Linked DNA regions of Homo sapiens: regions 1, 2 and 3 are each linked to region 4. Evidence: fine-mapped expression QTL. A gene starts in region 4. Each other region holds a variant in brackets. All regions are shown on one strand. Distances are from middle to middle. Region 1 holds the start of LOC124900217 (collagen alpha-1(III) chain). Region 2 has its middle 35 kb from the start of CITED2. Region 3 has its middle 23 kb from the start of NHSL1-AS1. Region 4 holds the start of NHSL1 (NHS like 1).

Region 1 (2,687 bases), 190 kb after region 4:
TATTCGAGATTGCATATGAAGTGATTCTAGGAGAAAAAACTATTTCATCCAGAGCTGCTGAAATCTAGGCGTGTGTTACATCAACATCTCCCCTCCCACCCAGCAATCCATCAACCATCTCCAATTTATTCTTTACACTTAGGATTATGACCAAGTTCACGTACTTAAAAGGGAGAAACCACAGAGACATCACACTGAAAGTTTCTCTGCTTTGGGCCAGCAGGAAATTCCAGTTGCTTCATTCACCGGAGCCAGTTAAGCTGCTGAAATGAAATGGATCACCGGAGAGATCACTATATCAGGACATAGACTTGACTTTCAGGGTTGGAGGAAGCCGGACAAAGATGAATGGGATTCAGAGCCTGAACTCAAGGTCAACGTCTTCTGAATCACAAAGAGCTGGTGGGTCAGTCTGGGAGAAGAAAGAAAATTCTGCGCCAAATGGGAAAACCCTTAAAGTCTGCATAGTTTTGCTTGTCGGTAAGAACACAGGTAGGCGGCGGGAAGAGAGGTGGCAAGCAGCCCCAACGCTCGCCGAGATCCCCAGGGTTTTACAAACGGATCGTCCTGAAGTCTCCAAAACTGTAACTACTATATGCCCAAATTTATATTCTCCCCTGGCTTTTCCAACAGGCTACCTGCCTGTGACAGTTTTCCCACGAACTTGGCTCTCCTCTGTCTACAGCGCCCCGGGGTCTCCCAAACAGACAGACACAGACAGACAGAAGGAGCAGACAAGGGGACTGTCCAATTCCCACCCTCCGCGCCCACTCTCTCGAGGTAGCCAAGACCCTCCAGGAGTCCGAAAGTCACAGAGCGCTCTGCGCCCCTGCCACCTGCCCAGCCTCCCGCTGGGGTCCGGCAGTCCCCACTGGAGACCCCGACATCGCGGGGCTCCGCGGCCCCCGCGCCGACCCAGGGCCGCCAGGGGGCGGGCGGGAGCAGCTCTCCGGGTGCCTCCCCCGCCGGTTCCCCTCCCCCGGCCCGCCGGCCACTCACGGATTTTCACTCGGCGGTGGTCCAGGCGCGCAGCGGCGGCTTGCAGGGCGTCGAGGCGGCGGTGCAGCGCGGCGGTGCGGTGGCCCAGCGCGGCCGCCTGGCCCTCGAGCTCGCCGAAGATGTCCCCGGCGCAGCGCGACAGGTCGGCCAGCTGCGCCAGCAGGCAGCCCAGGGCATGCGAGCTGACCTGCTCCAGCGAGCGGAAGAGTGGCGCGCCCGCAGCCCCGGCCCCCGCCGCCTCGGGCCGGCGCAGCCGCGCGGGCTCCAGGGTCCTCTGGTGGAAGGGCATGGCGGGGGCGGGCCGGCGGCGCGGGATCCCTCAGTCTGCCTCCCGTCGGCGCGGGGCGCCAGCCTGCATCCAACACAAAGGAAGTCCCGGGCAGCGGCGGGGCGCCGAGGGAAGCCTGGCGGCCCCTGCCCGCAGGGGAGAGGCCGGGCGGGCAGGAAGGACGGACGGACGGACGGGCGCGCGGGCGAGCGGGCACCCGGGCGGCGCGGGGCAGGAATGGGGTCCGAGCCGTGGCTGCCTGGCGCCCGGCGGCGTTCCTCCACCCGCAGGGC[T/C]TCGCGGGCCGCGCGGCGAGAGGAAGTTCCAGGGGCAGCTCTGGGCGGCGGCGGCCGCGGCGGCGAGGGGAGCCGCGAGTCCCGCTGAAGTTTGCAGGCGGGCAGGAAAGCGCCGGCTGCTCCTTCCCTCCCTCCGGATTGGAGAGGGAGGAGGAAGCGAGGGAAGTGCCGCCGACACCGGGCGAGAGGGAGGGGAGGCGAAAGAAAGGAAAGGGGGAGGAGAAAAGGGCCGGCCCGGGAACCACCTGCGGCTCCCGCGGCTGCCGCGCCCAGCGCCCGCAGCCAGTGGCGGCCCCGGCGCCTCAGCGCACCCTGTCGGGGCGGGTGCGGGCGCACAGTCCCGGGACGCCCACGTCGCCGCCCCAACTCCCCTTGGCAGCCCCCGGGCGGTGGGGCAGAGCCCTCGCCCGCCCCCCGGGCCGGGGTGCAGCGCAGTGCGGGCGCCGGGAGGGCGGAGGCGCCAGGACGGCCGCGGCCAGCTCCGCTCGCTCTGCTCACCTGCGCCCCTGCCCACGGCGCTCCGCAGTCAGGAGCGCCCCGCCCCGCGGGGAACGCCCCGGGCCCCTCGGGGTCCCCCTGCTCTCTCCTACTTCCCTTCTGGAAGGTGGCCAACACTTCTGGGCCGCCCGGGTGGACCTCAAATAGAACGTCTTTAAATGTCCGGTGGCCAAGGGTTCTGTAGCCGACTAGGAGTCAGCGTCCGACTCGGAACAACTCAAGACCTCTTTTCAGGGGGCGTCCAGTGAGTTTTTTTCAGCAAGGTGACTCCCCCTGTGGCTGCCTGCTACTACAGCTGGAAAGGTCCAAGCTGAAATGTGACTAATCTGAGTTTCTTCCACCAAGCATGTTAGTTAGGGGTGGAGGACTAGAACCTAGAACCCTGAATTCGAGCCTGGAAGATATGTAAGCCACATGCTATTGAGATCGTGGTCATGGGACACCCGCTAACACAAACCTTCTGGTAGGAAGTTTTTGAGAAGACTGGGTCCAATATCCCCAAGCTAAAATCCCACTGGCCCATCGCTGTGTTTGCTCAGAAAAGGAATCTGGGTTCTTTGGTTTCTGCTTTCCAGTTGACCCTGGTTGCTCCTCTGTTTTACGGCATTTTGGGAGTCGGTCTCCCAGAG
Region 2 (2,687 bases), 840 kb after region 4:
TCACTTCAATATCCCTCAAAGCAGAATGTTTAGCAATGCTGGGTCGTTATCCAGAAGCACAGTCTGTGGCCAGTGACATTTTATGAACGGATTCCACCAATGTGGATGCTCTGTATGTACGCGGACCTTGCCTTTATTATGAAGATTGTACTGAGTAGGCAGTTGTTCAGTTTTTTGTACAGGCTCTCAGAGTGGTTCCTGACCATGAGAAGGCCTGCCTTGCGTGCAGAAATGCCAGAGCACTTAACGCAAAGAAAGAAGACTGGAATAAAGCGTTTAGGGAAGGAAATTACAAACTAGCTGATGAACTGTACGCAGAACCCCCGGGGTAGACCCCGACAACATAAAAGCAATTGCTAAACTCTACTGTAACCGGGATATGGTTAATTCCGAGCTTGGGAAACTAGATGATGCAATAGACAGCTGCACAAATGCAGTGAAGCTCATGACACTTACATAAAAGCCTACTTGAGAAGAGCTCAGTGTTTCTTGGACACAGAACAGTATGAAGAAACAGTGCGAGGCTATGAAAAAAGTATATCAGATGGAGAAAACAAAAGAATACAAACAGCTCCTAAAAAATGCACAGCTGGAACTGAAGAAGAGTAAGAGGGATAATTACTACAAGGTTCTGGAAGTGACAAGAATGCCTCTGAGGACAAGATCAAGAAAGCTTATTGGAAACAGGCCTTGAAGTACCATCCACATCGTCATGATGGAGCCAGCGCTGGGGTTCAAAAGGAGGAGGAGAAGATCAAGGAAGTGGCGAGGTCTTTATCATCCTCTTTGATTCCAAGAAAACGATTCATTATCACAGTGGGCAGGACCTGGATAAGGAAGACATAAATTTGGGTGATTTTGATGCAAACAATATCTTCAAGGTATTCTTCCGCGGTCCTACGGGCTTCAGCTGTGAAGCATCTGGTCCAAGGATTTTCTTTCTTCGATTGGGCTCATGAAAGGCAACCATCCAGAATCCAGAAAATGCAGAGTCGCTCAGTTTAAATGTAATCAGCAGATCATTTCTATTAAGAGAGGAATATTTAAATCTCAAACCATAATTTGTCTGCCTCTCCTGTAGATCTATCAGTTTTTTGCTCAATGTATTTTATTATTAGGTGCATAAATGTTTAGATTTGTTTATGACCTTTTATCATTATGAAATAAACTTGAAAAATCCCATGTAATATTGTTGGCTGTGAAATCTATCATGTCTGGTAGTAATATAGTCACTACAACTTTCTTATAGTTAAGGTTAGCTAGATTATCTTTTTCTGTCTTTTAACATCTAACGTGTGTGTGTGTGTGTGTGTGTGTGTGTGTGTGTGTGTGTAAATGAATAACACCAAAAACAGTTACTTTGAGAAAATCAGTGAAATTGGTCAATCTCTGGCTAGACTGATCAAGAAGAAAGAAAATATATATGGAGAGAGAGTACATTTCTTATATGCAGCATATAGTTTGGTCTTCTGTTTTTTTCTTTTCTTTTCTTTTCTTTTTTTTTTTGAGACGAAGTTTCACTCTTGTTGTCCAGGCTGGAGTGCAATGGCGCGATCTCAGCTCACCACAAC[C/T]TCCACCTCCTGGGTTCAAGTAATTCTCCTGCCTCAGCCTCCCAAGTAGCTGGGATTACAGGCATGTGCCACCATGCCCAGCTAATTTTGTATTTTCAGTAGAGACGGGGTTTGGTCAGGCCGGCCTCGAACTCCTGACCTCAGGTGATCCGCCAGCCTGGACCTCCCAAAGTGCTGGGATTACAGGCGTGAGCTGCCGCACCCGGCCCTGTGTTTCTTTTCTGTTTGACAATCTCTGACTTTTAATTGAGATGTTTTGACAAAGTTATATTTAATGTGATAATTGATAGATTCAAGTCTGTCATCTTGCCATTTGTTTTCTGTTTGACCCATCTCTTCTTTTTCTTCCCTTTTCCTCATGTCTTTGGTTGAAGAACTTCCTTTGATATTTCTTTTTTTTTTTTTTTTTTTTTTTTTTTTTTTTTTTTGTGGTGAGATGGAGTCTCACTCTGTTGCCAGGCTGGAGTGCAGTGGCGTGATCTCAGCTAACTGCAATCTCCGACTCCCGTGTTCAAGCGATTCTCCTGCCTAAGCCTCCTGAGTAGCTGGGATTACAGGTGCGCACCACCAAGCCCAGCTAATTTTTGTGTTTTTAGTAGAGATGGGGTTTCACTATGTTGGCCAGGATAGTCTTGATTGCCTGACCTTGTGATCCACCCACCTTGGCCTCCCAAAGCACTGGGATTACGGGCATGAGCCACTACGCCCAGCCTGACATTTCTTATAGAGCAAGTCTGTTGCTGATAAATATTTTCAGCTTTTGTATATGTGAAAGAGTCTTTATTTCACCTTAGTTCTTGAAACATATTTTGCTTGGTATAAAATTCTAGTTTGACAGTTTAATAATTTTTTTGTCAGTACATTAAAGATGTTGTGTGTCACTGTCTTCTCACTTGCATTTTTTCTTATACGAGATCTGCTATAGTTCTTATCTTTGTTTCCCTAAATATATTGTGATGTTTTTCTCTGCTTTACAATGTTCTATCACTTGTTTAGGAAAATTTAATTATGATGTGCCTTAGTGTCGTTTTCTTCACATTTCTTGTGCTTTGGGTTCATTGGGCTTCTTGAATATGTAGATTTATGCTTTTCATTAAATTTGGAAAATTATTGGCC
Region 3 (2,687 bases), 220 kb after region 4:
TATGAGAATCTTTCATCAAAGAACAGTCTTTCTGTAGTTTAAATGCAGCAATTATAATCCCAACCATGCTTGCTAATCTTAGCTACCGGGAAGTTAGAAAGAGAGAAAGGTAATTCATAAGACAGCTTGGTACCCAAAACCACCTAGGTTTTTGTGGTCTATAGTCAACACCTCAAATTATATCGAGAAACAAACAGGCAGCCAAAGGGAAATGTAGACTACAATTCTAGCAACCTATAATTTTATTCCTTGTAGTTTGTGCCTCTCCACTGCAAAGTGGCTCTAGTCTGCCTGGTCCACAGCTTCCAGTTGGCCTCTTAGAGTGTGTTGCAGACATCCAGCCAAAAGCTCACTATGACCATCTAGAATAGTGCTCCCAGAAGCTGTCATGGAGTTTTACCCATAATGGGTGCTCACCCCTAAATATCTGTTAGTAATGATACCATGACAATTATGGCAAGCGAAGACTGACTCTGGATGATCTGGCTCACAATCCCACCCAGATCAACTTGCACAGTCACTTATACATGAGTCATGGTCCTGATTCTATTGTTGAAATAAAAGGTTTGGTGAAGTGCTTTTACACCTTGAGAGTGAAGAGATTAAGTCAAGGCCAAGTGTCTCAAACTTGAGGGTAAGAATGGAGAGTAGAAAGCTGACCATAACAGAAAGGGCCCATATTTTTGAGTTATGACACTGATTTCCTGCCTTAAAAATGACTGACATTTTCAAGGCACCTACCATTTACTGGGGATTATGCCAAGGGCTTTTTATGCCTCATCTCATTTTATATCTACAAACAGGCAATTTTATTAGTACTGTTATTTTGCAGGTAAGGAAACAGATTCAGAGGGGAAGCATAGCAGCAAACGGCTAGTACCTGAGGGAAAGACCCTAGATTTAAACGTAGCCTGCTGGCCTCAAGAACTTGGACTCAAGAGCTGGGAAACATCATGCCAATGTTTCCCAAAGTTTGAAACAGAATCTCTGGCAGTCTGTGACAGGATTTTATTTGGTGCACAGATGCTTCATTAAATTTTGAGAAAGTTATTTTCTTTGAAGTTCTTTCAATTTTTCTTTTAAATCTA[A/G]GTTTCCATTTCAGGTCATCTCTTTGCTCATGCATATGAGTATATACTGTTAGAAGCAACCAGGCCACATCTTGAATGCTTTGCTGCTTAGAAATTTCTTCTGCCAGATACTCTAAGTCATCTCTCTCAAGTTCAAAGTTCCAAAGATCCCTAGAGCTGCCAGTCTCTTTGCTAAAGCATAGCAAGAGCAACCTTTACTGCAGCTCCCAGTAAGTTCTACATCTCTGTATGAGACCACCTCAGCCTGGACTTCACTGTCTATATTACTATCAGCATTTGTTCACAACAATTTAACAAGTCTCTAGGAAGTTCCAAACTTCCCCTCATCTTCCTGTCTTCTTCTGAGCTCTCCAAATTGTTCCAACCTCTGCCCATTACCCAGTTGCAACGATGCTTCCACATTTTCAGGTATCTTTATAGCAATGCCCCACTTCCCGGTACCAATTTTCTGTATCAGTTCATTCTCTTATCGCTATAAAGAACTACCTGAGACTGGATAATTTATGAAGAAAAGAGGTTTAATTGACTCACAATTCTGCAGGCTGTACGGGAAGCACGGCTGGGGAGGCCTCAGGAAACTTACAATCATGGTGGAAGGTGAAGGGGAAGCAGGCACATCTTCACATGACAGAGCTTGTGAAGAAAGAGGGAAGGGGGAAATGCTACATACTTTTAAACAAGCAGATCTCGTGAGAACTCACTATCATGAGAACAGCAAGGGGGAAGTCCACCCCCATGATCCAATTACCTCCCACCAGGCCCCTCCTCCAACACTAGGGATTACAATTCAACATGAGATTTGGGCGGGGACACAGACCCAAACCATATCAAGACCTGAATGGCCAAAACAACTTTGAAAAAGCAAAACAAAGTTGGAGAGCTAACTCTACCTGATTTCAATGCTTCCTATAAAGATATAGTGTTCAAGACAGTGTGAGATAGAAGTAAAGGTAGACAAATAAATCAGTGAAACAGAAAAGAGAGTGGAGAAACATGCCCACACATAAATGGAAAACTGATTTTCAACAAAGGTGCAAAGGCAATTCAGTGGAGAAGGGATCATCTTTTCAAAAAATGGTGCTGGAATAATAAAACATCCATATGCAATAATAATAACCTTTTATCCATGCCATGTGCCATATACAAAAATTAGCCCCAAATTGATCATTGACCTAAATGTAAAACCTAAAGCTAAAAAACTTCTAGATGCTAACATAGGAGAAAATCTTTGTGGCCATGGGTTAGGCAGTGATTTCTTAGATACAACACCAAAATGATGATCCATTTTTTAAAAACTAATATATTGGACTTAATCAAAATTTAAAAATGCTCTTTGATGGATACTGTTAAGAGAAATAGAAGACAGACCATAGATTGGGAGAAAATACTTGCAAAGCACATATCTAATAAAGGACTTGTATTAGAATACAAAGAACTCTTAAAATAAAGAAGTTGCCCTGCAGTAAAAGAGTGAAATTGAGAAGCAAAATGAGTCCTGGCAGCATTGCCTAAATGTTGCTAGACTGGGGCTAGATGTAGCTAGACTGGGGCTTTCCCACAGTTTGATTACATGAGCCCATGAATTACCCTTTCTGTCTG
Region 4 (2,687 bases):
TTTGCATGGTGCATACAACTATCAATCTTAATACACAAAATCCACAAAGACCTGACTTAACCCTCATTTGTGTTTCAGAAGAATCTAGCATTGGGCCAAACTCACCATATGTCCCCCCAAAGTGTAGCCAGAGTTCATCACAGTGTTTTGTGCTGATGTCCATTTATTTTAAAGACTGAGTTACCATACTTCAGAGTTAGAAACTATTGAAAATGGAAACTTTTCCTATTCGACAATTTCAAATCAAATCCAAGTAATGGCATTCGTGTCTGCACCATCAATCGCACCATCGGCCCCACTGCACAGCTACCAACTGGCTCCTATGAAAAAGTCTCTTCCCCTCGTGTTCCTCACTCTCGCCAGGGCCACTTTTAATCTGTTCATCCAAAGGCAGCCTTTAGCAAGGAGCTGCAGAAAATCAGCCCACCGTGCTGCTCTTTGTAGCTTTCTCCAAAGCTCCTCTTACCAATGCCCCTACCCATGTTCATTTATCCAGTATAAGTCACTGGTCCAAACACTAAACTAAACTAAAATAAAATAAACCACCGACTATGTAAAAACAAAGCCAAGTAGTTATAAAAATTATTATTTTCAAGAGAATGAAGAAGCACCTACATTAAAGAAATGTAAGTCAATGGTAAGTACACAATAAAGCCACATCACAAAAGTTCTGTACCTTACAACAATCACTGATCAGTCTAGACAGTTTGTGCTCGAGCTCTTAAATACACAACAAAGAGTGCCAGGGAGTTTCAGGGGATTATCTCCACCAGAAATATGTGATACATTACACAGAGGCTCCCTTACCTCAGCTGCATATTTATCCAAAGAATCAAAAAATCATACACTTGATATCAAGGGAAACATAAATTAAGTACAAGAATTTCCCCCCTCTTCAAAGGACTTCTTTTGAAAAGCACAGAAGAAGTGAATTCACTTAAAACCCCAATCATAAATAAATAAGACATGCTAAGATCACATAATACTGTCCTAGAGTTACAAAAGTCTGAGGTATTTAAACAACCTGGTATAGAGTAGAGTTTAACTCATGCCTATTACGCTGTTTCACACTCTAATTTCTTCACACAAAAGAACGAAGGACCTAAAACACACACATGGACACACACACACACACACACACACAGACACACAGGGACATATACACATATGGAAACATATGCACACAATAGGTAGTAGAGAGAAAAGGAACTACTTACTTTTCTTCTTAAAAAGTTTAATTAAAGACTTAATCTTTGCATTAATGAAGACCACCATTTCCAGGGCACCTACATAGAGCTTAGAAATGTAAATCACATTAAAAGCTCAGCCCAGTAGGCAGGTGGCAAGCTTCGTCCTTCTGCTACAGATTCTAACTTTTTCTTCCCCCGGTCTCATATCCTTAGACATCTGCCCAGGCTGATGTAACTGAGGTTGAGTTTATTGTCAGGCAGTTACAAACCATTAACAGTCCTTGAACCTGAAAAACTCCTACTGAAACCTAATCTTTAAGGCTGAGAGCAGCCAGTGACATCGTGCGCTGAAAGAAAGAGAAAGCCAATCACGGTTCTTATTTGCATGACAGCCACATCAGGCTTTCTGCCTCAGTGCCCATTCATTCAGTTTTCTCTCCAACAGATCAGAAGTTCCTCCTCTCTGAGCCCACAAAAATAGTGCAGACTTTCCTCTACGGAAGTCAAGATGAAACAAATGTGTTCCCCATTTCATTAGGCCCCTATGAACACCCAGATCTTTTACAGGAGCTGCCAAGTCTGACAGCAATTCCAGTTAATTCAGGGTATATGGGATTTGAACTGATTTAGGGGGGAAAAAAACCAAACTATTGTTTCCCAACCACGCCCCAGGCTCTGCCTCCGATACCAAAGGAACTTGTACAAGCAGTAAAACTTTAGAATAGAATCTCCAAGGAGCTGCAAATGATGACTTGGTTGCATTTTTGTGCAAATTAGGATGCTCTGTCTTCTCACCCTTCTTTGCCAGTGATTGAGAATCAGCATTGTGTGTTCCAAAGCATGATCTTATTTGCATCTAGCTGCCACAACAATCAAGAAAAAAAAAAATCCACCAAAAAAAATACAACTTCCCCACTCCAAATGATAAATTAGATAAAGTACCCTAATCATTTTAATCTTTATTTTATATGTAATTGTCACTTAGGCTCCTGGTTTTCAGAATTCCATAATCGCCCTTCCCTCAATGTTGTCTCAAACAAACATTATCTGAGTTACTCTTTAACTTGAATCTACCATCCAGAGTGCTGGTTCTTTTGCCCATTGGCAATTAACCACAGAGAACTAGGGAAGCACAAGTAGAGACAGAGAAATCAGAAACAGAGTATAAGAAGGCACTGAAAAAACATATTCCAGGGGTAAAGGGATAGGAAAAAAGAGGAGAATATAGATCCGGAAATACTATGACAACGGAAAAAGGAAAAGAATCTTCCTCACATCTCAGCCCAGTTCCACTTCATGGCCAAACACTTTTGAAACAATTTAGACAACCTCTTATTTCATAGCTTTGGGCCAGACTTATAACTCAATGGAAAAATGTAATAATCCACTAATTCAAAACATTTAGTTTATAACAAAGGCTCTTAGTCAAAGAATAAAATTTATATAAGGGGCTCTGTCTAGGGAAAGCTTTGAAATGATTCCTTCTCAGGTCTTTTT

What was found.
Region 1: its variant is fine-mapped to the expression of NHSL1 in whole blood (INTERVAL, PIP above 0.99).
Region 2: its variant is fine-mapped to the expression of NHSL1 in gastroesophageal junction (GTEx, PIP 0.95).
Region 3: its variant is fine-mapped to the expression of NHSL1 in whole blood (TOPMed, PIP 0.98).

Annotation. Positions count from the first base shown.
Region 1 is chr6:138,691,477-138,694,163 of GRCh38, forward strand. It overlaps LOC124900217 (collagen alpha-1(III) chain), which reads left to right and starts at 1,250. Exons shown (of 2, transcript XM_047419637.1): 1 at 1,250-2,687. The coding sequence starts at 1,287. The coding sequence ends at 2,216. NHSL1-AS1 (NHSL1 antisense RNA 1) reads left to right here and starts at 192. Exons shown (of 4, transcript NR_033896.1): 1 at 192-492. It also overlaps a transcript of NHSL1 not described here. RefSeq lists an enhancer at 1-786 and silencers at 909-958, 969-1,318, 1,799-1,858, 1,899-2,038. The variant T/C (reference allele first, on the strand shown) is at 1,561.
Region 2 is chr6:139,338,628-139,341,314 of GRCh38, forward strand. It overlaps the pseudogene LOC100129844. Among named protein-coding and RNA genes, the nearest start is that of CITED2, 35 kb to the right of the region's middle. The variant C/T (reference allele first, on the strand shown) is at 1,572.
Region 3 is chr6:138,713,565-138,716,251 of GRCh38, forward strand. No RefSeq gene overlaps it. Among named protein-coding and RNA genes, the nearest start is that of NHSL1-AS1, 23 kb to the left of the region's middle. The variant A/G (reference allele first, on the strand shown) is at 1,089.
Region 4 is chr6:138,498,016-138,500,702 of GRCh38, forward strand. NHSL1 (NHS like 1) reads right to left here and starts at 1,479. Exons shown (of 8, transcript NM_001144060.2): 1 at 1,218-1,479. The coding sequence starts at 1,275.